Homo sapiens: one gene and its partners. The protein of the gene in region 2 interacts with the protein of the main gene of each other region in a biochemical or structural test. Each region holds a gene or a part of one and is shown on either strand. Other genes may lie near its edges. The genes, in order: PTPN12, PXN, ASAP1 and TLN1.

Evidence for each region.
Region 1: the proteins of PXN (region 2) and PTPN12 form a complex in vitro, tested with the Homo sapiens proteins (4 studies listed by BioGRID and IntAct, with this or other methods).
Region 3: the proteins of PXN (region 2) and ASAP1 form a complex in vitro, tested with the Homo sapiens proteins (one study listed by BioGRID).
Region 4: the proteins of PXN (region 2) and TLN1 form a complex in vitro, tested with the Homo sapiens proteins (3 studies listed by BioGRID).

The regions. Positions count from the first base shown.
Region 1 is NC_000007.14:77,624,276-77,631,307, forward strand, and holds part of PTPN12 (tyrosine-protein phosphatase non-receptor type 12), read left to right. Parts: intron 1-2,429; coding exon 2,430-3,400; intron 3,401-7,032. UniProt on the Homo sapiens protein: Dephosphorylates a range of proteins, and thereby regulates cellular signaling cascades. Dephosphorylates cellular tyrosine kinases, such as ERBB2 and PTK2B/PYK2, and thereby regulates signaling via ERBB2 and PTK2B/PYK2.
Region 2 is NC_000012.12:120,262,704-120,270,478, reverse strand, and holds the start of PXN (paxillin), read left to right. Parts: upstream 1-4,748; 5' UTR 4,749-4,849; coding exon 4,850-4,862; intron 4,863-7,775. UniProt on the Homo sapiens protein: Cytoskeletal protein involved in actin-membrane attachment at sites of cell adhesion to the extracellular matrix (focal adhesion). Recruits other proteins such as TRIM15 to focal adhesion.
Region 3 is NC_000008.11:130,051,586-130,055,688, reverse strand, and holds the end of ASAP1 (arf-GAP with SH3 domain, ANK repeat and PH domain-containing protein 1), read left to right. Parts: intron 1-883; coding exon 884-958; 3' UTR 959-3,585; downstream 3,586-4,103. UniProt on the Homo sapiens protein: Possesses phosphatidylinositol 4,5-bisphosphate-dependent GTPase-activating protein activity for ARF1 (ADP ribosylation factor 1) and ARF5 and a lesser activity towards ARF6.
Region 4 is NC_000009.12:35,729,193-35,736,439, forward strand, and holds the start of TLN1 (talin-1), read right to left. Parts: upstream 3,004-7,247; 5' UTR 2,883-3,003; intron 1-2,882. Other genes in the region: CREB3 (cyclic AMP-responsive element-binding protein 3), read left to right, coding at 3,581-3,709, 3,804-3,951, 4,023-4,090, 4,204-4,293, 5,917-6,023, 6,114-6,182, 6,856-6,940, 7,035-7,119 and 1 more. UniProt on the Homo sapiens protein: High molecular weight cytoskeletal protein concentrated at regions of cell-matrix and cell-cell contacts. Involved in connections of major cytoskeletal structures to the plasma membrane.

The DNA of each region.
Region 1 (7,032 bases), on a different chromosome or scaffold from region 2:
AAAAAGAATCTACTTGTAAAACTTGAACAGATATAGGAATATCTTATGAGAGTATTGCTGTCATTTTAATATGATCAGTATTCTGGAGATATTCATTTATCTTCTCATGTCCTAGGAATGTGGGAATGTGTCTAGAGAATCTGAACTTCACAGAGTCTTTATTTATTTATTTTATTTATTTTGAGACAGAGTCTTGCTCTGTCACCTAGGCTGGAGTGCAGTGGCGTGATCTCAGCTCACTGCAACCTCTGCCTCCCGAATTCAAGTGATTCTCCTGACTCAGCTTCCTGAGTAGCTGGGATTACAGGCGCACGCTACCATGCCTGACTAGGGTTTTGTGTTTTTAGTAGAGACGGGGTTTTGCCATGTTGGTTAGGCTGGTCTCAAACTCCTGATCTTGTGATCCGCCTGCCTTGGCCTCCCAAAGTGCTAGGATTACAGGCGTGAGCCACCATGCCTGGCCCACAGAGTCTCTTTTAAGGGGAAACCTGGTGTACCATGTGATTACTGCCAGTTATCTGGTTGGATAAAAAAAGGTTGATCACCTGGGGGGAGAAAAAAAAGCAAAAACTCTGAGGTGGGGTCCAGTGGCTCACCCCTGTAATCCCAGCACTTTGCGGGGGCCGAGGCAGGCAAATCACTTGAGGCCAGGAGTTGGAGACCAGCCTGGCCAACATGGCAAAACCCCATCTCTACTAAAAATACAAAAATTAGCCAGGTGTGGTGGCATGTGCCTGTAGTCCCAGCTACTCAGGAGGTTGAAGCACAAGAATTGCTGGAACCCAGGAGGTAGAGGTTCCAATGAGCCAAGATGGTGCCACTGCACTCCAGCCTGGGTGACAGAACAAGACTCTATCTCAAAAGAAAAACAGAACACAAAAACTTAAATATACAAGCCCTCAAGAAGTTTGCTTCATATAAAGTTCTTAAAAAGCAACAAAGCCTGGGCAACATAGTAAACCCTATCTTCTTCTTTGGTTTTTTTTTTTTTTTGAGACAGGATCTCATTCTTTCACCCAGGCTGGAGTGCAGTGGCATGATCAGAGCTCCCTGCAGCCTTGACCTCCCCAGGCTCAGGTGATCCTCCTACCTCAGCCTTCCTAGTAGCTGGGACTACAAGCATGCATTGCCACATCCAGTTAATTTTTTTGTATTTGTTAAAGACACAGGGTTTTGCCATATTGCCCAGGCTGCTCGCTCTCTCTCTCTCTCTCTCTCTCTCTCTCTCTCTCTCTCTCTCTCTCTCTCACTCTCACTCTCACTCGCGCTCTCTCTCTCGCTCTCTCTCTCTTTTTTTTTTTTTTTTTTTTTTTGGAGACAGTCTTGCTCTGTCGCCCAGACTGGAGTGCAGTGGCGTGATCTCAACTCACTGCCATCTCCACCTCCTGGGCTCAAGCAATTCTCCTGCCTCAGCCTCCCAAGTATCTGGGACTGCAGGTGTGTGCCACCACACCTGGCAAATTTTTGTATTATTAGTAGAGATGGGGTTTTACTGTGTTGCTCAGGCTGGTCTCAAACTCCTGAGCTCAATTGATCCACCCACCTTGGCCTCCCAAAGTGCTGGGATTACAGGCGTGAGCCACCATGCCTGGCCCCTATTTCTTTAAGGAAAAAAATAAAGGCAACTAGAGGGTATAACCCACCCGAACAAAGGAGTATACCCAGAAAGAGGAAAATGAGACCTGGGAAACAGGAGAATCTGAAACCAGAGAGAACATTAGCTCTGTGATGGACTAGGGAACCAGTAGTCCACACTGGAGCAGGAGGCCAAAAGTTACTAACAAGGATGTCTGTGGTATTGATACTTACTATGTGTGCTTGTCATTATTGAGAGGAGGTATACCAATCTGCAAGAAAGTTAGAAGAAAAGCTGAGTAACTGATGATGCATAGAGAGCTAAGCCATCAGAAATCCAAGGCAGTCATTAGGGGAAAACAAGACACTATAGAAGAAAAGATACGAAATCATGGTGTCATAGATGGGAATACTATCTGCAGTCATACGACTGAGGTAATGAAAAATTACAATATAACAGTATTGGAAAGATAGAGAAGGACACTTCCACAGTAGGAAGTCAGTAGAAAATGTGTGAAACAAAGATCAAGAAATAACTTTTGAAATAGTCTGAAATACAGAGGTGTAAATTTTAGAAGCAGCTATAAAAAAATGTTGAAAGTTGATGCCTCTGGCTAACAGGAGGGCTGCGGGGCAGAGACTATGTTTTTCATTCAAAGTCTTGTATTTGACTTTTTAAACAGTATATGTGTATTACCTTGATGAACATTAAATTTTCTTAGTCTGAAAAACTGCAGTTTTTATTCGCAACCAGATTGTAATGGCTCTTAATATGCTACTCTTAGCTACATAATTCTCAGGTATCAACTTGTTTAACAGTCTTAAAATGCCCTTTTTAAATGTTTGTTTTTCAGTTGCCTTGTTGAAGGGGATGCTAAAGAAGAAATACTGCAGCCACCGGAACCTCATCCAGTGCCACCCATCTTGACACCTTCTCCCCCTTCAGCTTTTCCAACAGTCACTACTGTGTGGCAGGACAATGATAGATACCATCCAAAGCCAGTGTTGCATATGGTTTCATCAGAACAACATTCAGCAGACCTCAACAGAAACTATAGTAAATCAACAGAACTTCCAGGGAAAAATGAATCAACAATTGAACAGATAGATAAAAAATTGGAACGAAATTTAAGTTTTGAGATTAAGAAGGTCCCTCTCCAAGAGGGACCAAAAAGTTTTGATGGGAACACACTTTTGAATAGGGGACATGCAATTAAAATTAAATCTGCTTCACCTTGTATAGCTGATAAAATCTCTAAGCCACAGGAATTAAGTTCAGATCTAAATGTCGGTGATACTTCCCAGAATTCTTGTGTGGACTGCAGTGTAACACAATCAAACAAAGTTTCAGTTACTCCACCAGAAGAATCCCAGAATTCAGACACACCTCCAAGGCCAGACCGCTTGCCTCTTGATGAGAAAGGACATGTAACGTGGTCATTTCATGGACCTGAAAATGCCATACCCATACCTGATTTATCTGAAGGCAATTCCTCAGATATCAACTATCAAACTAGGAAAACTGTGAGTTTAACACCAAGTCCTACAACACAAGTTGAAACACCTGATCTTGTGGATCATGATAACACTTCACCACTCTTCAGAACACCCCTCAGTTTTACTAATCCACTTCACTCTGATGACTCAGACTCAGATGAAAGAAACTCTGATGGTGCTGTGACCCAGAATAAAACTAATATTTCAACAGCAAGTGCCACAGTTTCTGCTGCCACTAGTACTGAAAGCATTTCTACTAGGAAAGTATTGCCAATGTCCATTGCTAGACATAATATAGCAGGAACAACACATTCAGGTGCTGAAAAAGGTAATAATATAGTGTCAAATACTTAAATGTCTTTCCTATGTGCTAGTCACTGTTTTAAGCACTTTAGCTGTATTGATTTATTATGTTTTATTCCACACTCTACCATAGAACCTACAGCAAAATCTGTCTTAGATACTAATTTTTTAATATAAGCTTTTAATGTATTGTTAACAATTTGGTCACATTATATTACTGGGTTTTGTGTTTCTAAATTATTTTAGTAGTTATAACTGGATAACTTATTTTCTTTTTCTTCTGTATTATAGATCTTAGTGTTTTTGTATCGGTCAAAAATTTATCTGACTGAATAATTAGAAATAATTTAGGGAAGAATCACTTAAAATAACAGTGGCAAAAATACTGTAGAATGTCTTGATTGGCCATATAATGTTACTCGTTTTTCCTAAATGTTTAGTCATTTTTTACTGTTCCTTTAACTACAGATTACATTTTTTTGTTTGTTTGTTTTTACTGTCTTCACAAATGCTTCCAAATATGGCTGCTTCCAACCCTGAGTTTAACCCAGGAACAATACTGCAAACTGCTCAATTCAGTAGTGAGTGGGCTATATGCATACCTACTCATCAAAGCTATTATTTAAAGAATTATTATTTTTTTAGCACTCTTAGCATTTCAAGATAATGCATGCACTCAGTTCCCAAAGTGTATTATTGCTTCTTGAAACTCCTCTTTGATCTGCTGAAAGTAATGATGGCTACCATCTTAAACAGACCCTAAGGTTGAGAGTAAACATATAAATTTGAAAGCTGTTTATTGATATATTGATTATCAGTGGTCACTTACCTATCAGTGAACTTTGGTAGTGACACATACAGACTGGTATTTATAACGTGCAGGCAAAATAAGTACTGTGACCTTGAAAGATTTTTTTTTTTTTTTGAGACTTGCACTCAAAAGATTTTTTTTTTGAGTCTTGCACTGTCACCCAGGCTAGAGTGCAGTGGCAAGATCTCGGCTCAGCCTCCCAAGTAGCTGGGATTACAGGCACCCACTACCACACCCAGCTAATTTTTATGTTTTTAGTAGAGACAGGGTTTCGATATGTTTGCCAGGCTGGTCTCAAATTCCTGGCCTCAAGTGATCTGCCCACCTAGGCCTCCCAAAGTGCTGGGATTACAGACGTGAGCTACCACACCTGGCCTTGAAAGATTATTTTCTATTTCTGACCCATTATATACCACCCATACTGTAGTGCTTGTATTTTCTCTCACACATACTGTATTTTTTAACTTGAGAGAGTGTATTTGGTAGACTAGATGACAGTCTTTTTGAGACAGAGTTTTGCTCTTGTTGCCCAGGCTGAAGTGCAGTGGCGCAATCTTGGCTCACTGCAACCTCCGCCTCCTGGGTTCAAGGAATTCTCCTGCCTCATCCTCCCTAGTAGTTGGGAATACAGGCATGCGCCACCATGCCTGGCTAATTTTTTGTATTTTTAGTAGAGACAGGGTTTCACTGTGTTAGCCAGGATGGTCTGGATCTCCTGACCTCGTGATCCGCCCACCTCGGCCTCCCAAAGGGCTGGGATTACAGGCGTGAGCCACCACGCCCAGCCAGGTGACAGTCTTAAACTATTTGCTTAAATTACAGAATTATCTTTTCTTGATTTATCTTTGTTTTATTTGAAGGATCTTTAGAAGATAATGAATAGTATAATATTACTTTACCAGTTTACCATAATTTTAAATTGCTAATGTCTTTTGTTCCTCAGCTTCAGAATTTGAAATATAACTGCCCAGCTGTAACTATATAAGAAAATATGTAGATAAGAAATTTTCATTTTGAGTTTTTAGTATATCAAGCATGTGGTATTGTACCTAGGAAGTTTTATTGTTTTTTTGTTGTTGTTTTGTTCTTTTGCTTTTTTTTTTAAAAAAAACCAAAAAACCATTACTGGAAATAGGATTTGGTGAGGGCCAGAAAGATGTATGATGTGATATGCTTATTAAAAGTTACTACTACATGACGAGTCTGTTGGTGGCTCATGCCTGTAATCCCAGCATTTTGGGAGGCTGAGGCAGGAAGTTCACTTGAGCCCAGGAGTTCATAACCAGTCTGGGTGACATAGTGACACCCAATCTCTACAAAAGATAAAAAACTAGCCGGGCATGGTGGTGCACACTTGTGGTCCCAGCTACTCTGGAGGCTGAGGTAGGAAGATCACTTGAGCCTAGGAGCTCAAGGCTGCAGTGAGCCATAATTGCGTCCCGGCACTCTGCCTGGGCAACAGAGGGAGACCCTGTCTCAAAAAAAAAAAAAAAAAAAGAGTAAGATATAGCTAAAAGCACCCTACTATGTGCCAGCTCATTTCTGTTTGTTTGGTTTTGTATTTCAAAGCAAAAATCACTATACATGTGATTTCTGGTTTCTTTTTACTCAACCTTAACTATGTTATTGGTTTGATTTTAACCGAAGATTTTCCTGTGTGTAAATGTTCTTTGTTGCAGCATAACTACAAGTAGTCTCATTTTTAATGTGTTGCCAAATATTTACCATATGGATTATTTACTTTATAGATTGTTTATTTACCTTATAGATTATTATTTCCTTTGTAGATCATTATCTTATAGAGCCATTGGCACCAGAATTAGAGTTTTGGGGGGTTTTTTGGTCCTAGAACTTGTTAGTGAATTACAGTCACACATTTCTTAATGGCAGGGATATGTTCTAAGAAAAATATGTCATTAGGCAGTTTTGCCATTGTGTGAATGTCATAGAATGTATTTACACAAACCTAGATGGTATAGTATATACTACACATCTGGGCCATACAATGTAACCTCTTGCTCCTAGGCTACAAACTTGTATAGCATATTACCATACTCAACAATTGTAACACAATGGTAAGTATTTGTGTATCTAAACATAGAAAAGGTACAGTAAAAATATGGTATCATAATCTTACAGGACCGCTGTTGTTTATGCGGTCTTGTTGATGAAAACATCATTATGTAGTGCATGACTATAATGGAATACTTTTGTATTGATACCTAAAAAAAACTTTTGCATAAGTTACTGCCTGACAAAAATTCTTAGCTATCAATTCTAATTTCAGTCTTGACTTAGGCCTCCTGAAAGATTTCTCAGATTCAACTACAGAAGGCCCCATACAGTGTATGATTTGCAAAAGCCTATATAAAATACGCAATATCTGGTTGGATAACCTCTAAAACAAAAGTTTTTAACAGGAAAGGCAGCCCAAAGTTCCAGGGAGAAACATGCATTTGCAAAGCAAGGGCCACGCTTAGAAAATAAAAGTTTTTAAGGGTGAGAACTGCCATGAGAGAAAAAGCACAGAGTTTCTGGAAGATAACTGATAGAAAAAGGGCTGAACTGCCCTTTTTGTTTTGTTCATTTAATTTAAGAAATGGTACCAGAATGCCAAGATTATGTGTCCCTTCCTTCCAACAGCCATCTCTTCACTGTGCGCTGTTAGTAGCAAGAGGGCAAGGAGACATATGGTGATGACTCAGACTACCACTACTGGATAAGGTAGATAGTTCTTTAGTGGCAAGAGAGAGTTCTGGTACTCTTGGTAGATGTATCAAGTATTGGACTGGAACTCCTCTTTCAGGAGGACCCAGAAGCTGTATTTTCTTGCGTCTCCAGCTAAA
Region 2 (7,775 bases):
CATGCCCAGCCAACACTGAGGATATATTGAATTAAATAAAATATATTATTAACATTAATTTTATCTATTTTATTTATTTATTTTGAGATGGAGTCTCACTCTGTCCCCCAGGCTGGAGTGCAGTGGTGTGATCTTGGCTCACTGCAAACTCCACCTCCCAGGTTCAAGCGATTCTCCTGCCTCAGCCTCTGGAGTAGCTGAGATTATAGGTGCCCACCACCATGCCCGGCTAATTTTTGTGTTTTTAGTAGACCAGGCTGTTAGCCAGGCTGGTCTTGAACTCCTGACCTCAGGTTGTTTGCTCACCTCGGCCTCCTAAAGTGCTGGGATTACAGGCATGAGCCGCCGTGCCCGGCCATATATTTTTTTATTTTTTATTTTTTGAGATGGAGTTCTGCTCTTGTAAGCCAGGCTGGATCTTGGCCCACTGCAACTTCCGCCTCCCGGGTTCAAGCGATTCTCCTGACTCAGCCTCCCAAGTAGCTGGGATTACAGGCATGTGCCACCACACCTAGCTAATTTTGTATATTTAGTAGAGATGGGGTTTCACCATGTTGGTCAGGCTGGTCTCAAACTCTTGACCTGAGGTAATCCACCCATCTTGGCCTCCCAAAGTGCTGGGATTACAGGCATGAGCCACCGTGCCTGGCCTGTTTCTTTTATTTTTTTAAAGATATTTTTTAGAGAGGAGGTCTTGCTAGTTTCCCAGTTTGGACTCAAACTCCTAAACTCAAGCAATCCTCCTGCCTCAGTATCCCATGTAGGTGGGACTACAGGCATATGCCATTGCACTTGGCTAAAAAAGTTTTGATTGGGCCGGGCGCGGCGGCTCACACATGCAATCCCAGCACTTTGGGAGGTGAGGCAGGTGGGATCACCTGAGGTCAGGAGTTCAAGACCAGCCTGGCCCACATGGTGAAACCCCATCTCTACTTAAAGAAATGCAAAAATTGGCCAGGCGCGGTGGCTCACGCCTGTAATCCCAGCACTTTGAGAGGCCGAGATGGGCGGATCACGAGGTCAGGAGATCGAGACCATCCTAGCTAACACGGTGAAACCCCGTCTCTACTAAAAATAGAAAAAATTAGCTGGGCGTGGTGGCGGGCGCCTGTAGTCCCAGCTACTTGGGAGGCTGAGGCAGGAGAATGGCATGAACCTGGGAGGCAGAGCGTGCAGTGAGCCGAGATCGCGCCACCGCACTCCAGCCTGGGCGACAGAGCAAGACTCCGTCTCAAAAAAAAAAAAAAAAACAAAAACAAAAATTAGTCGGGTGTGATAGCGGGTGCCTGTAATCCTAGCTACTCAGGAGGCTGAGGCAGGAGAATCACTTGAACCCGGGAGGCAGAGGTTGCAGTGAGCTGAGATCATGCCGCTGCACTCCACCCTGGGCGACAGAGTGAGACTCTGTCTCAAAAAAAAGAAAGAAAAAAAAGAAAAGTTTTGATTGCATATCCGGCTTGCATTCTGTTTCTTTTCTCTCTCTTTCTTTCCTTCCTTCCTTCCTTCCATCCTTCCTTCCTTCCTTTCTTCCTTCCTTCCTTCTTTCTTTCTTTGTTTTTTTTTTTGACAGAGTCTCACTCTGTCGCGCAGGCAGGAGTGCAGTGGCACAGTCTCGACTCACTGCAACCTCCGTCTCCTGGGTTCAGGTGATTCTCCTGCCTCAGCCTCCTGAGCAGCTGGAATTACCGGTGCACACCACTATGCCCAGCTAATTTATATATTTTTAGTAGAGATGGTGTTTCGCCATGTCGGCCAGGCTGGTCTCGAACTCCTGACCTCAAGTGATCCGCCCGCCTTGGCCTTCCAAAGTGCTGGGATTACAGGTGTGAGCCTGGTCGAGTTCTGTTTCTATTGCTGAGTGAAGAGTGTTATTTTGTGGTGACAAGGACCATTCTAAGTACTAGGTGTGTCGTTTCTTATTTAGTCCTATGAGGACTCTGAGAGGTAGCTACTATTAACCTTTCTATAGGGGAAGAAACTGAGGCACAGAGTAAATTGCCCAAGATGAACCACTAGCAAGAAGTCAGCAGGGTTGTCCATCTGCTCTGTCAATGTCGTTTAATCTTTAGGAAGAATGAAAAAACCTGATTGATTTTATCAAATGCAAGGGACTGAATGTTCATATCCTTGAAAATTCATATGTTGAAATCTAATCTCAATTCGATAGTGTTAGGAGGTGAGGCCTGACAGGTGATTAGGTCATGAGGGCAGGGCCCTCATGAAAGAGATTAGTTAGTGCCTTTATTAAAGGGACCCTCTTTGAGCCGTGTGAGGGTACAAAAAGTCAACAGTCTGCAACCCAGAAGAGGGCCCTCACCAGAACCTGACTGTGCTGGCACCCTGATCTTGAACTTTCAGCCTCCAAAACTGTGAAAAAATAATTTCTGTTGTTTATAAGTCACTCGGTCTACAGTATTTTGTTGTAGCAGCCTGAACTAGACACCAAGTTTAATTGCTGTGGGGTGAGAGTCCAAGGGAAGAAGGAAGCCAGGGAGGAAATGGGGGTTTAGGAATGATTTACATGAGGAAATCCCTGGCAGGGACCTGAGTGTTCGAGTGCACCAGCACTCAACTCTGAAGCTTCAGTTCTCTTTAGAACTCTGCATAGCAATGGGAAACTTGCCCATTCAATGGGTGCCTCGCATTTCCAGACCACACAGCTTTGAAAAAGAAAGGTTTTAGACCTTTGGAGAAGTGGACAAGCGTATGCCCTGGGGTTGGTCTAAGTTGTTAGCAGTTTCACTTAGCCGTTTCATAACCAGGCCTTGGCATAAGCCTCCCCAGGTTCAAATCTCAGTTTCCTTACTTATTAGCTGTATGACCTGGAGTAATTCAACCTCTGACTCTCAACTCTTCCAGCTGTAAAAGGGGCTAACAATGCTCATCTCCTAGGCTTGTGGTCAGTATTAAATGTCTTGTCTACAGACCTTTGCACATGCTGTTCCACACAGCTGGGAGTGGGGCGAGGCTACTCATCCTTCATGCTAACCACTTTGCTCTTTTGCGTGCACCTTTAGATTCAAGAAGGTAGACATCATGTTAGTCTTATTCATCATCCCAGCCTACGCAACAAAGCAAGACTGTGTCTTAAAAACACAAAAACAGGCTGGGCGTGGTGGCTCACACCTGTAATCCCAGCACTTTGGGAGGCTGAGGGGGGCGGATCACCTGAAGTCAGGAGTTCAAGACCAGCCTGGCCAACATGGTGAAACCCTGTCTCTACTAAAAATACAAAAATTAGCCAGGCATGGTAGTACACGCCTGTAATCCCACCAGGAGGCAGGAGATCACCTGAGATCAGGAGTTCAAGACCAGCCTGGCCAACATGGTGAAACCCCATCTCTACTAAAAATACAAAAATTAGCCAGGCATGGTGGTATGCGCCTGTAATCCCAGCAGGAGGCAGGAGAATCACTTGAACCTGGGAGGCGGAGGTTGCAGTGAGCTGAGATTGCACCACTGCACTCCAACCTGGGCGACAGATTGGGACTCCATCTCAAACAAAAACAAAAACACAAAAACTAAAACAAAATAGAGGTATGTGCAAGATGCTGGAAAACCACGCAATAGAGTGTTTGAGGAACAGTCTTTGGTCTTGAATTTATTATAGGAGAATGTGGCAGCCACAGAAGCTGCTTGGATCTGCCTTTATAAAATGACTGAACATGGTGGGAGCATTGGAACCCGGATACTTCTGCCCAAGGAGACTTCTCATTTTTTTTGTCCTGGAATTCCCTGATGGGTTGACCTGTTTGTCAGATCTGAGTCTCCTTGCCCAACCCTGCTTATTTCCCCTTCTCTGTCACGGGCATTACCCCTAGCTTTATCTCAGCATCTCATCTGCTTTCTGGAGGACCTGATCTGACCCAGAAGGCCTGGATTCTTGAGGGACAAGGGGAACTCGAAGCTGTACTTGCAGAGCAGTTTTATATAAAATCCACAAACTGCCATCACCCATCCCAACGGGTAGGGAAGTACCTCTAGGAGGATTAATTTAGAGAATAGCTATATAGTGTCTGTCTATTCAGACACTCAATAAATGGTAGTTGTTATTATTACCCAATTTCCGAGTGTGTGGGAGCACTGGGTGTGACTTTCCTGTAGTTTTCCCTTTAATGTCTAATCTGGGGACCCCTCTGCCCCATGCAGTTTTGGAAAAGTGTCTAGGGAGGGTGGCTGTGTGGAAGTAATATTAAGAGAGATGGAACCACACAGGTATTGGGTTTGGGCCAGAAAGGGTGAACTGCGAGCTGCACTGCCATTGATCCAGAGGACGACCCCAGGAAAGGTCAGCCACGGGCTCCGGGCCTTGCCTGGTACTGATTTATGGTCCTCCTGGGTGGTGACCTACAGGTGACAGACGGACAGGTGGGCAAAACTGACTGTCCAGTGGACAGGCATGTGATGACCCAGTGGCTGACGAATGCACAGACACATGGCTGACTGTGGACGGATTTGTCATCCGCAGGGTCAGGCAAGTGACTTTGAGAGGGACAGAAAGATGGATGGGAGTGGCTGGAGGCCTGGGAGCCGCCCACCTGCCCGCTTAGCCGCGAGGGGGCGCCACCGCCCCGCCCAGCGACGCCCACTGCCCGGGCTCTTGGCGGGGGCGGGACCAGCGTGCGCAGGGGGCGGGGCCAGCAAGCTCGCGGGGGTGTCCGGGGGCGGGGCGCGCGTGCACAGGGGGCGGCCGGGGGCGGGGCGCGCGGCGGGCGCGGGCGCGGGCGCGCGCGGCGGCGGCGCGTTCCGTTCCGGGCCGAGGCTCGCGGCGGAAAAGTTGCGGGGCATAGACGAGCGGCCCCGGGACGGGCAGCTAGCGCGACCCTGAGCCGGCGCCCGTGGTCCGGCCATGGACGACCTCGGTGAGTGAGCGGGAGGCCGAGGGAGGAGGAGGCGAGAGGCGCGCAGCTTGGGGCCAGGAGGGCGCCAGCGAGCGGCAGGGGCCGCGGGATCCCACCCTCGGCGGCCCCGGCCTCAGCTCCTGTCCCTGCCGGCCGGGGCTCCGCGGGGCTGGGATCCCTAACCGGGCCTTAGTCTCGGGCCAGGCCGGCCCCGGCACCGACCGCACAGCAGCGACCCCCCGTCTGGGACGGCTTCACCTCTGGACCCCCGACCTCGGGGACCCATCACCATCTCCCAGAAGGGCCCCAGGGACCAGCCCGCCCCTCAGGGACCCACCCCGTCCGCTGCAGGGACGAGACTTCCTGCGGCAGACCACCTCGTCAGCTACGGGACCCTCACCTCGCAGACCTCTCCCCACCCCCACCTCACAGATCGACCGCCCAACTCGGGGAGCAGCTGCCCGATCTCATGGGCTGCTCCCTCATTTCCTCGACCTGCTCCCCGTCCCTCCAGGGCCGCCCCCCACTTCACAGACTAGCACCCCCCTTCAGGGATAACCCCTCGGAGCCCACCCCTTTCATTTCACAAGTCAGATGCAAAAGCTAGAGATGAGCGTGTGATGACCACACCCCCATTTCAAAGACAAGTTTCCCAGTCTGCCTGCTCTTCTGACCCCCCACTTCAAATCTGGTCACCCCGTTTCAAGGACCCATCACTCATTTTCTCTCACTGACCTCCCCGCTCTGTGGACCAGCCCCTCAATTCACAGACCAGTCCGTCTACCATGGTATCTAAGTCTAGAACGGTAATTTGGGAGTCCTGATTCTCTCCCCACCCCTAGATTCTGGTGAAATGCCAGGGGAATGAGGTGGAAGGTGGGCCCCAAGGTATGACCATCCCTGAACGTGTCCTGGCTAGCAGAGTCCCCTCCACCCTCTCTGCGTCAGGCCCTGCTGGAAGCCACGCAGGTGAAAGAGGACAGGATGCCCAGAACAGAGTTTTACTGTTTTCCTGTTATTGGAGCCCCAAGGCTACTCTTTTCAGTCCAGTCTTGATCTGGTGTTAGGGGAAAGAAAGTATCTCCTGGAAGCCGACTCTAAACCCAAGGGGGTTGGTGCCAGGGTTCTAGGAATGCCTTGGGTGGCGTGAACGCAGGAGTGGGAGGATTCGCTGTCTCTCCCTCCCCTTCACGCCTGTAGCTGGAGGGCCCTGAGCTTGGGAGGTGAGGAGGGGGGCAACGTTTCTTCTCTGCAGGAGCCTTGTCTTTCCTCTCTGGACTGTGGGTGGCTTGTGTGACCACTGATGCTTCCTCTGTCCCAGGCTCTGAGGAGTAGATTCAGCAGACAGGACTGATGGACCTCTACCAAGCAGCGCCGGGCACTAAGTTAAGACTGGCTATTTGTAGGTGCTGGACTTGACTGCTTCCCTCCAGCTTCCTTTTGGGATCAGGGTGCCCCTGAGATCCTGGAGCTGGGGTTGGTGTAGGGTCCTGCCTGTTTTGCAGAGTGAGATGGCTGCCAAGCGTGGTTCTGCCTTTGGGTCAGGCTTGGCACCCATTTTTCCAGTGTGCTCAAGGTTGGCATGGCTTCCAGGCAGGTATTTTTTTTTTTCACATAAAAATAGCTCAGCTGGAAGGAGGCTGGGGGATGTTCTTTGAACCAGGATCTAAGAGTCTGAGTGCTTTCCCAGTGGGAACTGGGAGCAAAGTTACAGTTTCTAAAGTGCTGGTGCAGTTCTGTTGCTTCTCGGCAGTCCCCGTGCTGTTTCAAGGACTGAGAAAGTCTTTGTAGAGCTCGCCATCGAAATCTGGAATTCCTGTCTTCTGACAGTCTTCCATTTAGGGCCAGGAAACTGAGTTCTGAAAGGAAAGAGAGTACTGTATACGGGAGAGGGGATTGTAGGGATTTAAATTGCTGTTTGTGGAGTACTTCCCTCTACCTCGATTTGTGATATCCTCACAACAACCCTTTTATCAGATTCCACCTTAAAGCCAATGCTGTCATGACCACCTGCCTTTTTACAGATTGAGAAAGCCGAGACGAAGAGAGGCTGATTCTCTTGCCCAAGGCTGCACAGCCATGAAATGACAAAACCATAACTGGAAGCCCAATTCCTAGCTCCCAGATCTGTGGCTCTTGTATACCGAGAAGACTTTTTTTCCTGGGGAGGAGGCAAGGGCACTTGAAGGAGGGGTTGCCACTGGGTGATGGCGATCACCTGTAACTTCTACTGCTTTCTACCATAGACTCCCAGTTGCTTACATCCGGGCTGCCCGACTTCCTTGGCCTGAGCTCCCAAGGGGCAAGCCACGCCTGACTGACCGGAGCCTGGGGTGGGAGGAATGGGGTGTGCAGGAGGGGAGAGGAATTTGCCTTTGCACTGGGGCCCCGTCAGCTGTCTGGATGGCGGCTCAGCACACTGCCATCAGCTGTTTTCCTTAGGGTGGCTCAGCTGTTTTCCTTAGGGTGGACACAAAGCCCAGACCTCTTGTTTTTATTTTTCTCCTGAGCGTGCTCTCAGCCGTGTGCCTCCTGGTCCCTAACACAGGGGAGAGTTTATGGTGTGTCCGGTAGCAAGGCCAGAGGGTGCATCACCTCCTCTGTGACTTTGTTTTTTGGTCTAATAAAAAATGGGGAACTCTTCTCCTTCCCATAGTTGCCAATGACAGACTCACCATGTGCTGCTTAATAAGTTACAAATTTATAGCTCTCTGAGCAGAAAAATATCAACACAGCGTGTTCTGCCCTTCCCTGTGTGTTCTCTCCACTTTGTTCTTTGGGGTGGCTGCTTGGTGGCTTTTCTTATTACTGTTTAGATGCTGGTTTGGCCCAGAGTTCGCTCTGTTCAAGTTCTGGCCGGAGTTTCCTGGACAGAGTTCCCACAACACTGAGATGCACTCTGACTGTGTTTTCTAACCCGATTGCTTGCTCTTC
Region 3 (4,103 bases), on a different chromosome or scaffold from region 2:
AGAAAATTTTTACAGGTAACTGGCTTACAGGCCAATGCAGCAGACAATAAAATTGCCATTCGCCACCATCAGTCTCAAACTTTCACAGTATTCTTCCTCCACGGTAACCAGAAAACAAGTGATAGTACATAGCAGCCTTTTTTTTTTTTTTTTACTGGCTAGAACAACACTTTACTCACAAAGAGAAGAGACAGAACAAGATTAGCTTTGATTTGAGTATGGTACCCCGCAGTGGGTCTTGCCAGGCAGCTGACACAGCTTAATGGTCTGTATGCATCCTACCTGGGCTGTGGGCAAAGAAACCCCTTCCTTCCCAACTAGGAATAGGTAATAGTACTGGGATTGGCCAGGTGCCATAGCAGCCTTTTCATTTGCTTTTTTTTTTTTTTTTCTTTTTTAAATGTATCACACAAGCCTGGAGAGAAGGGATTTTCTTTAGCCCCACTTAACAGAGAAAAGGCTTAGCAAGGTTTGTGTGAGGTCACCCAGCTGTAAAGGCAGCCAGGCGCCCTGGTTCAGAGCAAGGACTCTAGAGCCCCACGCCTGTGGGAGAGCATGTCACCTCTCTGGGCCACTGTCCCTTCATCTGTAAAATGAAGATTGTAAACTGTATAAGAAATATCCACCTCAGGGGGTTGCTGTGTGGGTACAGCAAGATCCATGTAGAATGCTGAGCATATTGGAAGTTCTGTCGTTTGCTCTTTCCTTATGTAGTTTATGACCGTTAAGCTCTCTGTAGTTCACTAAAGGGTGGGAAGAAGGGTAAGCCTGGGATTCCACCGCCAGGTCTGTGGGCAGACTAGGCTGGGCTCTTACCCACTGGGTTTGTCGTGGGGCCACTGCCTGCTGCCTCCATCCTGACCACTCTCTTTTCTCCCTGCAGATTGGCCACATCGAAGGACAGCCTGAAAGGAAGGGGGTCTTTCCAGTGTCCTTTGTTCATATCCTGTCTGACTAGCAAAACGCAGAACCTTAAGATTGTCCACATCCTTCATGCAAGACTGCTGCCTTCATGTAACCCTGGGCACAGTGTGTATATAGCTGCTGTTACAGAGTAAGAAACTCATGGAAGGGCCACCTCAGGAGGGGGATATAATGTGTGTTGTAAATATCCTGTGGTTTTCTGCCTTCACCAGTATGAGGGTAGCCTCGGACCCGGCGCGCCTTACTGGTTTGCCAAAGCCATCCTTGGCATCTAGCACTTACATCTCTCTATGCTGTTCTACAAGCAAACAAACAAAAATAGGAGTATAGGAACTGCTGGCTTTGCAAATAGAAGTGGTCTCCAGCAACCGTTGAAAGGCATAGAATTGACTCTGTTCCTAACAATGCAGTATTCTCAATTGTGTTACTGAAAATGCAACATTAGCAAAGAGGTGGGTTCTGTTTTCCAGGTGAAACTTTTAGCTCCATGACAGACCAGCCTGTAGTTATCTGTGTACACAGTTTACAGCTACAAAAACCTACTTTGGTATTTATTACAGAAAAGTGCTCAGTTAAATGTAAGTGTTATTCCTTCAGCAAAATATTCACTGACCCAAAACTCTTTATGGCATTTTACAATGCACACAGCCTCATGCAAGTTTAGACAAGTGGATTTATACTGTCTTATGAGTGCCCGCCCCTGATATATTACCTCATTATGCAAAAATAACATATCTTTCATGACTATTTTGACAAAAGTTTAAAACACATATGAAGTTCAAATTTCAGGAACCAAGGACTGCCAGAAAATATTAGCCTCTACATTACGCATGCATTTAGAAGCTTACCTGAAATCTGCCTTTTATAAAGGAATAGTATGGATAAGTGGAATTGTACATTTTTTAAACTTGATTGCCATTAAAGCAGAAATTATAAGGTTGCAACAATATTTGTTTCTAATCACTGGCTTTCTCAAGAGTATGGATTGACATATTGTGTTATGAATGCACATCTCTCAGATGTGTTGAAGCATCCATTGCATCCATTTTTTATTATTTTCTTAGTTTTGTTCTTGGACAAATTTAAACTTTTAAAAGATTATTCAAGATGAATTTAAAAGTCAACCCTTCACACAGTTTCCCTACTGTATGTAGAATCCAGGTGCTGAAACCAAGTGTTTCTTTTCCCATGCTCTTTGTTAAACCCCAATTATAGATAATTTTTCCAGTCTTAAGCTCTGTCCACCTTCAAGTCAATTCATAACCAAGTTTTTGAACGCTGCTATGAATTGCACTGTGAAAAGCACTCTTCCCTCTCAGTTTTCTTTTCATCCCAGCCATGTTTATCAGATCCTTAAGAACATTGTATTTCAGTCTTTTACATCAGTCTGAATTTTGGAAAAGAATGCAATAGTTGTACTCCACAGTCAGTGGAACTGTTCCCTGAGTCCGAGGCTCATGTGTCATTCTGGCACTACATTTGCTTAAATTGCTATTTTGGCAACAGCACAGAAAACTAATATTTTTAAGCAGAGAATCTTGGCAATGAGTGAGAGATGTTAATTTCACAGAAGCACAACTCCCAACCCAACCCTTAGGAAAAGCCCTCTTCCATCGTTACAGTGCTCAGTGAATATTAATTTAGTTCTGCTTAAGTGGTTGCTATACAAACTTTGAATAGCCACCTAATAAATAAACCTTGCATGACAAACCTGCAAAATATTTTATCAGCTGTTATTGGAAAGTGATTTTAAGCAATTGCTTCCTCAGTGTCAGGGCACATGTGAATTTCCACACCAAACAGAGCATGAGGAACCAGTTGACATGCTGGGTTGTGACTGGCAGCTTTAGCAGCCTCGGTACTGAAGCCACACCAGTGTCCGGATGGAAGTCTGCATCTGAGGTTGCTCAGTGTCCCGGTCATTCATTTACACATTTTAACTTGCATTAAAGAGCTGTTCTTTTCTGTGGCCTAGACTCTTTTCACTGATCTCAAAATAAACTGGTTTTTTTCAAAAAAAAAAAAAAAACAAAAACAAAAAAAAAACACAAAAGCTGCATGTCTAAAATTACATGGAGTTAGTGTCTATTCTTTTTCCCCTTTTGCAGCAACTTACACAGCATTTTTAACACCTTTTTTTTCTAGTTTTTTTGTTCGGTTTTGTTTTCCATCAGGAATTTGAGTTCTCTCTAACCCAGCTTACTGTGGGACATAGGAAAACTCAGTAGAAATACCTTTGGTGATCTTGTTGAGTTTAAGTCTGATCTTGATCTTAAACTCAGTAAGCCACTATCTGCAATTTTGTACATTATATAGTATTTTGAAGATATGGAACCTTATGAAAAAAAAATAGCAAATTAGTTCTTTTTCCCCCAGAGGGGAAAGTTATGTTCTGCAAATAGTGTGTGTCTTATTTTACTGTTGAACAGCAATTGCTATTTATTTTTTTATTGCCTAGAACTTCAACATGTTGTATAGGAATCCTGTAGTGCCACTAGTTAAATGCCGAATTCTCATCTGGATGTTACCATCAAACATCAGTACACTTGTCATTTCACATGTGTTTAATGTGACAGTTTTTCAGTACTGTATGTGTTAATTTCTACTTTTTTTAATATTTAAAATTGCTTTTAAATAAACATATTCTCAGTTGATCCCAAACTTCTGAAATCAGGCCATTTTGTGAGTTGTTCACTACCCTGCTGACAGGAGAGAATCAAGGCTTCCTCTGGCTGTGCTTTCGGGTATATAGATGACACAGGTCACTCCAACCCTTGTCAGAGATCACTCTGGATACATAAAAATATGTGGCACTTGCCCCGGCTTACAAACTGTGGGCCTTCGGCCCCTTTCTGTCCTCCACCTTCCGCATTCCACCTCCACCACGTCCACTTGTGCGCCCGTTGATGTGAACAGGGCAAGAAGAGGGTGGAGGGGCACGAGGCTTACATGTTGTCGTGTGGACAGCACTTCTGTCACGTAGCTGTCACAACTAGTGCTGCCACGCAGTGGAGCAGACCTGGCCCAGGCACTCTGCCTGCATTAACCCCTGAATCCTTAGCAAGCCCAGGAGAAGCGTGAGCCCCTCAGCTTTACAGAGCTGACAAATGAGGCTCAGAGGCATTCATTCACACACAGGAGACATGTGGCTTGTAAATCACTAAGGTGGGAGTGCACAC
Region 4 (7,247 bases), on a different chromosome or scaffold from region 2:
CAAATAATAAGTTGTGAAGCCAGGATCCGAACCCAGGTTTCTGACTGCAAAGCCCAAGCTTTCTCCACTACGCCAGCCAGCTGGAGATGTGTCAGGGGTAGTTTTCACTCCAGGCAGAGAAATAGCATAAGCAAAGATGGAGAAGCAGTAAATCGTGGAGGAGCATTCAGGGAAGTGAGCAGGCAGGCTGTTGAAGCACAGGGGTACCTGCAAGGGAGCAGTGGTGGGGAAGTCAGGGTTAGGATGGAAAGGCAGAGGAAGACTGGAGAGGGGTATGAGGAATTTTACTTATTGGAGGACAAAAGGAAGCCAAGGGAGTCTTTGAGCAGAGAAGAGACATAACCGGAACTGGATTTTAGAAAAATAACTCTGGCAGTTACCTTGGAGATTAGTTAGAAGGACACTGTATTAGTACAAATTAAAGGTAATGAAGCCGGAGTTGGAATGGCATTGAGGAAGATGTCACTCAGAACAAGTTTGGGGAGGTAGAAATGACAGGACCTAATAACTACTAAGGTAGACAGGTTAGAGTCCCACAGCTTCCTATCATCAGCAGCCACTTTAGCGGCTGGGGCAGCTTGAGTTTAGGCGACGAATTGGGAAGAGGGGAAAGGATCAGGTTGGGCAGAGAATGTGAGGATGAGGCTGTGGTTACGGGATGTGGTTAGGCTGTGGGGAAAAAGGGTATGAGTATATGATTAGTAGCCACTAGGGGCAGATGGGGTTGGGTTAGTGACTGCATCAGGCTGGGAATGGGGAAGACAGGGTGTAGAAAAAGGATGAGAAGACAGGGTGTAGAAAAAGAATGCTGGTGATGATGGTGTTTGGAAAAATACATATACATAAGATACATATATGACCAGTCACTGCATCAGGTTGGGGGAAGGGGAATGATTACATGGATGGTGGCTAAGTCAGGGAATGATGGGGTGAGGTCAGAGGCCAGGTCAGGCTATAGGAGGTTGAGAAGAGCTGGGCCTGTGGTCAGTCACTAAATCAGACTGGGGTGGGGGTGGGAAAGTGAAGGGACATTGGCAATGTCTAAGTAAAGCTGGAGCTGGGATGGGGGATGGGGTACAGCCAGTGGCTGGGTCAGGCTGAGTAGAGGATAGTGCTGTGGTCAGTGGCAGGGTCAGGCTGGGAGTGAAGTGGGGGTGTGGTCAGTGGCCTGGCTGGGCGTGGGATCAGCAAGACCCAGTTTCCTCTTTGGGTCTCGTTTCCTCTTTTCTGTTGGGGAGTGGGGGAAGGGGATCTACAAATGGTCCAAGAAATTAAAAGAGGCTTAGATCCAGGGGGTGACACACAGCAGGGGATGGGAGTAGGGTATTCAGCAGATGACCAGGTGGAATGTAGGTACATGACTGGGTGAAAATGGTAGGAGAGTAATTTAAAATGATGGGAAAGCTCAGGTTTTGATGAGGGTAAATTCAGGTAGGATGTGCGGATTAAAGGTTGGTGAGGGAGGTAGAACTAAGGATGGGAACGGATGATAAGATGAGCATGGGAGAGTTAAAGGCAAGGGAAGTATTTTGTAAGGGGATAGGCAGGATGGGTGTGAAATGCAGAGTCAGGGATGAGAGTTGGAGAGGAGGGCTTAATACCAAGAGAACAAGTGAAGTGGGAGAAGCAGGGCTAAACTTTCAGGGGATTCAGTTATTCCCTTCTCCCATGGCAACAGTGATTCCTTGGTTAGCTTCCCCCATAGTCATCAGCTCCTTCTTCCCTAGGCAGTCCCCAACTTGTGACTAGGCCTTGTACATCCTGGGTCCCTATTTCCCACCTATGTTGTCTGTAAACAACACAGTCCAGAATCTCTGTCCCCTAACTGTGGTGGCCACAGCAAGGGCCTTGGGCTTAGAGAATGGAATAAAGAAGCTGGAATCCCAGATGCCTGCAATTCTAGCTAAAGCCAGAACGCTAGCCTGAAATTAGTTTATCTCTCTGGGTAAAAAGAAGCCCCTGTAACTACATAGGAATAAAGGATTTCCCTACAAAAGAAGGGCATTTACCTACTGCCAACCTCTTAAATTTTATCTGCTCAAGGTCAACTATGCTAGCCTCAAACCACAACCCCTAAAGCTGCCCCAAATTCCTAACATTAACCCCACCTCTAATTTGTTTCCTGATTCCCAGTACCGGCTTGGACATTCATCCCTTTCCTAGCACAGACTCATATCCAATCCCTGATCCCTGAAACTGATCTAAGTTTTGCCTTTAGCACCAAATCCCCTGATGTTAACCCTAAATGTTGACCCCTAAGCCTAAAGTTCATTTATAATTTGATTCCTAACTCACGCTTTCACTGTTTATCCTTAACACCGACCATGCCAACATTCTTTAATCCCTCAAACAAGCTCTAACCTGATTCCTGTTGTTTGTTGACCCTTAACCTGACCCTGAACTCAAATTATGACGTATGATGGCCATCCCAGCAAACAAGATAATGACCGTAATCTAAACCTTACCTATCTAAAACGGACCTGACTCACACTAACTCTTAAGTTTTAACCCCAGCTTTTAACTCCTATAGCGACCCTTGATTCCTAAACGGACCCCACCTAATCCCCAACTCACCCAAAGCTTTCCTACCCACATGCCCGCTATCAGCTAACACCAAAGCCCGTCCCCGCCCTGCGCCCCGCTGCCACCCGACTCCTCACGCTCCCCAAAGCCTATCCCAGACATAGGACTGCTCCCAGGAAAGGCCTGTCTTCCCCAAGACGGCCTACTTCACGCCGAGCTCAAGCCGAGATGCGCTGGACGCTGACCTCTCCAACTAATAGGACCCGAACCGGACACGCAAGAGAGGCAGGGCCCGCCCGCCCCGGGGCCAGGCCCCGCGGCCCCACCCTAAGGCCCCCGCCCGGCCCGGTCTGGCCTACCTGCGCTGCCTGGCTCTGCGCCCCGCCCGCCGGCCCGCCGCCCCGCCGCTTCTCGGGTCGCCCTCGGGCTCCGGCCTCGCCCTCCCTTCGACACTCTCTCGGCCACTTCCGTCCTGGGAACGTCCCCCACCCGCGGGCGGCGCCCTGGGCCCGCGCTCTATGGTCGCGGGGGGCAGGCAGGAAGCTGCTCTGGCCCCGTTCTCGATGCTCGGGAGCCGCCAAAGCCCGGCAGCCCCTCCCTGGCAGGAAGCGAGGGTGCGGCGCAATCCGGAGAGGACGCCAGGACGACGCCCGAGTTCCCTTTCAGGCTAGAACTCTTCCTTTTTCTAGCTTGGGGTAGAAGGCGGAGCCGGAGCCCCGGAACCCCCGCCCTCGGGGTGCGAGGCGGCAGCAGGGCCGTCCCCTACATTTGCATAGCCCCTGGGACGTGGCGCTGCACCCAAGCCTCTTCTCAGTTGGAGGGAACTCCAAGTCCCACAGTGCCACGGGGTGGGGTGCGTCACTTTCGCTGCGTTGGAGGCTGAGGAGAATTGAGCCTGGGAGGCGGGTCCGGAGAGGGCTATGGAAAGCCGCCGGCGGGGAATCCCGGCCGTAGAGGGACAGTGGATAGGTGCCCGAGGCCTACAGCTGGCCTGGGGCTCGTGTCTGGGCTTCGGACGTTGGGGCCCGGTGGCCCACCCTTTCCGTAGTTGTCCCAAATGGAGCTGGAATTGGATGCTGGTGACCAAGACCTGCTGGCCTTCCTGCTAGAGGAAAGTGGAGATTTGGGGACGGCACCCGATGAGGCCGTGAGGGCCCCACTGGACTGGGCGCTGCCGCTTTCTGAGGTAGGTTGGGGTTCTGACTGGGGAAAGCGTGGGATGTCCATGAAGTCAGGTGATGGTGATAAGGTCAAGGCCTGTTCATTGGAACCCTGCGCAGGTACCGAGCGACTGGGAAGTAGATGATTTGCTGTGCTCCCTGCTGAGTCCCCCAGCGTCGTTGAACATTCTCAGCTCCTCCAACCCCTGCCTTGTCCACCATGACCACACCTACTCCCTCCCACGGGAAACTGTCTCTATGGATCTAGGTGAGTCTGAAATAAGTTTGCGGGGAGGACAGGGTTCATGGGCCTGGCTATTCATACTTTCCCTTTTGCAGAGAGTGAGAGCTGTAGAAAAGAGGGGACCCAGATGACTCCACAGCATATGGAGGAGCTGGCAGAGCAGGTACTTGACTTGATTTTCAGGAGATTACTCTCACATTCCCCAGGTGGGGGCAGGATTCCCCATTCCTCTCTGACATCCCCATGCAACTGCCGTCCACTTTCTTGTTACCCTAGGAGATTGCTAGGCTAGTACTGACAGATGAGGAGAAGAGTCTATTGGAGAAGGAGGGGCTTATTCTGCCTGAGACACTTCCTCTCACTAAGGTAAGACTCTCATTGGTTGAACAAAGGCTGAAAAGGGATTAAAAGTCCCAAGTAGGCAAATTCTGTTAACTTTATATCAATAACTTTAAAAAAGGATTGAGGTGAGAAACTTAGTAGATTTATTGCTAATAGGAAGTTGAGGCAGGTACACAATATGCCAGATGCAAGGGCAGATCCTCGTTTTTGTTGGGCTTATACAAATTTTGGTGTTCTGTTAAAAAAATAACTCAAAATTATCAGTGCAACATTAGTATTGGGCCTTGGAAAGGACTGTGTAAGTGAAGGGCCTTGACACTTCGTTGGCTTCATAGTAATCCACCTCTTGCTGAATGGTAGAACTGTTTAGAGAGTTCAACAGGGTTGGACTAAGCAGTACATGAATAAATGTAAAATCCTTAGTTTTCAGTTTTAAGCAATGAGTGGCAACTTCACAAGCAGAGTACTGGGGTACTATGATGAAATCAGTGCTCATTAATAGAAAGGTTACAGGAATATATATATATTTTTTGACAAGGTCTTGCTCTGTTGCCCAGGCTGGAGTGCACTGATGTGATCATGGCTCACTGCAGCCTTGACTTTCTGGGCTTAGGTGATTCTCCCACCTCAGCCTCCCGAGTAGCTGAGACTACAGGTGCACACTACCCTGCCCGGCAATTTTTTTTTTGGTATTTTTAGTAGAAATGGGGTTTTGCCTTGTTGCCAGGCTGGTCTCGAACTCCTGGGCTCAAGTGATCTACCCACCTTGGCCTCCCAAAGTGAAGAATTTTAATTTCTTCAAAGTACAAGATGAGTCAGCAGTGTGATGTGGCTACTAAGAAAGTTCATGGGATTTGGAAACTGTAGCAATAGAGTTATTGTCTCTACAAGTCACTCTCTTGCTTTCCTTGATACTGGCTAGAGCACATCTTTGACAGATACTAAGAGGATGCAGTCTATCCTGAGAAGATGAGTTAAAAATTTTGTCTTTTTTTTTTTCTTTAAGCTCTGAGGAAATGTTAAGTGCCTTAAAATAGCTAAACAGGGTTTATTCTATTTGGCCCCAGAGATACTAGGTAAGTCCAACGGATAGAAATTATAAGGAGGCAGCTGTTGGTTCAGGATAAGGAAGTTTTTATTTGCTTGTTTGAAGACAGGTTCTTGCTTTATTGCCCAGGTTGGAGAATAGTGGCGAGATCATGGCTCACTACAGCTTCAACCTCTCAGGCTCAAGTGATCCTCCTTCCTCAGTCTCCTGAGTAGCAGGGACCACAGGCATGTGCCACCACACCCGGCTAATTTTTTATTTTTAGTAGAGACAAGGTCTCACTATGTTGCTCAGGCTGGTCTCAAACTCCTGGGCTCAACCGGTCCTCCTGTCTTAGCTCCCCAAAGTGTTGGGATTACAGGCATGAGCCACGTCGCCTGAATACTGCCCGACCAGTTTTTTTTTTAATAGTTTAAAATGGTCTGGCTTGTTAGGGTTAACACCTGGTCCGTGGAGGCATTCAGAAAGAATCTGAATGCCTGTTGGTCAGGGAAGCTGTAGAAGGGATTTCTGTATTGGAAAGAGATTGATCTCAGTTGCGTTTCAACTCCTTTTTCTAGAGTTCCTCTAATGATATCCCTTTCCCTGTTTCCTTTCAGACAGAGGAACAAATTCTGAAACGTGTGCGGAGGAAGATTCGAAATAAAAGATCTGCTCAAGAGAGCCGCAGGAAAAAGAAGGTGTATGTTGGGGGTTTAGAGAGCAGGTATGAAAGGGAGAGGGACTCTGTTGTAAGTATTAGGTTTTTGAAGGGAGGATACAGGCCATATCCCCGTATCTTTGTTATTTCCCCCAGGGTCTTGAAATACACAGCCCAGAATATGGAGCTTCAGAACAAAGTACAGCTTCTGGAGGAACAGAATTTGTAAGTATCCCTCCAAACCATTCCCTTCCTATGCCCCTCATTTAATGCTTTCTCACTCTTTCCCCTGCCCTACACTTGATTTCTAACTGGGCAGCTGCCTTCACTAGGTCTCTGATTCCAAGAAGCTCCCAGTAGTGAGGAATACATTTACAAGTAACTAAGAATAAGTTAAGTACCAAGAAAAAGAAAGGGGGTAAGAAAGACGTCATGGGCTTTCATAGTAGTTAGGATTCTGGGGTTGGGTTGGGAAAGCATTCTAGGCAGAGAGAAAGCATCCTAGGCAAGAGGACTAGTCCAGCATAGTCATCTTGGGCTGGAACTCTTAACACACATGAGCTGGGACAGAAGGTAGAGAACATAGAAAATGCCTGGTGAGGATTATGTGCATAGCTGATCAGACAGTGGGGAACGACTGATGATATTCGCAAAGGAGGTTAAGTCCTGGCAGAGTTTTTTTGTTTTGTTTTGTTTTTGCTTTTTGTTGTTGTTGTTGTTTTAATGAGGAACTTCAGGCATTTTGTCCAGAGAGGAAGAAGTCGTTTGCAAAAATAGAATGAAAAGTAAGAGAGAGGATCCAGTGCAGAGATGGAGGAGGTGGCCTGAACAGGAGTTTCACTGTGTCTCAGGATGCTAGGCCAGGGGATGCTCACTATTGGCCCCTCTCTTCCTCTAGGTCCCTTCTAGATCAACTGAGGAAACTCCAGGCCATGGTGATTGAGATATCAAACAAAACCAGCAGCAGCAGCACCTGCATCTTGGTGAGGATGGTGATGAGGGGAGAAATCCTTTTCTCAGTTGGTGGGGACAGGGCAATCCAGAGCCCTTCTTCATCTCCTTTTTCCTGTGCTCTAGGTCCTACTAGTCTCCTTCTGCCTCCTCCTTGTACCTGCTATGTACTCCTCTGACACAAGGGGGAGCCTGCCAGCTGAGCATGGAGGTAAGAGGCTTAAGGATAGCTCTCAGACAGGGCAAGGGGAGAGGTCTGGGTTGGCCTCTGAAGATTCTTTGTCTCCTCAGTGTTGTCCCGCCAGCTTCGTGCCCTCCCCAGTGAGGACCCTTACCAGC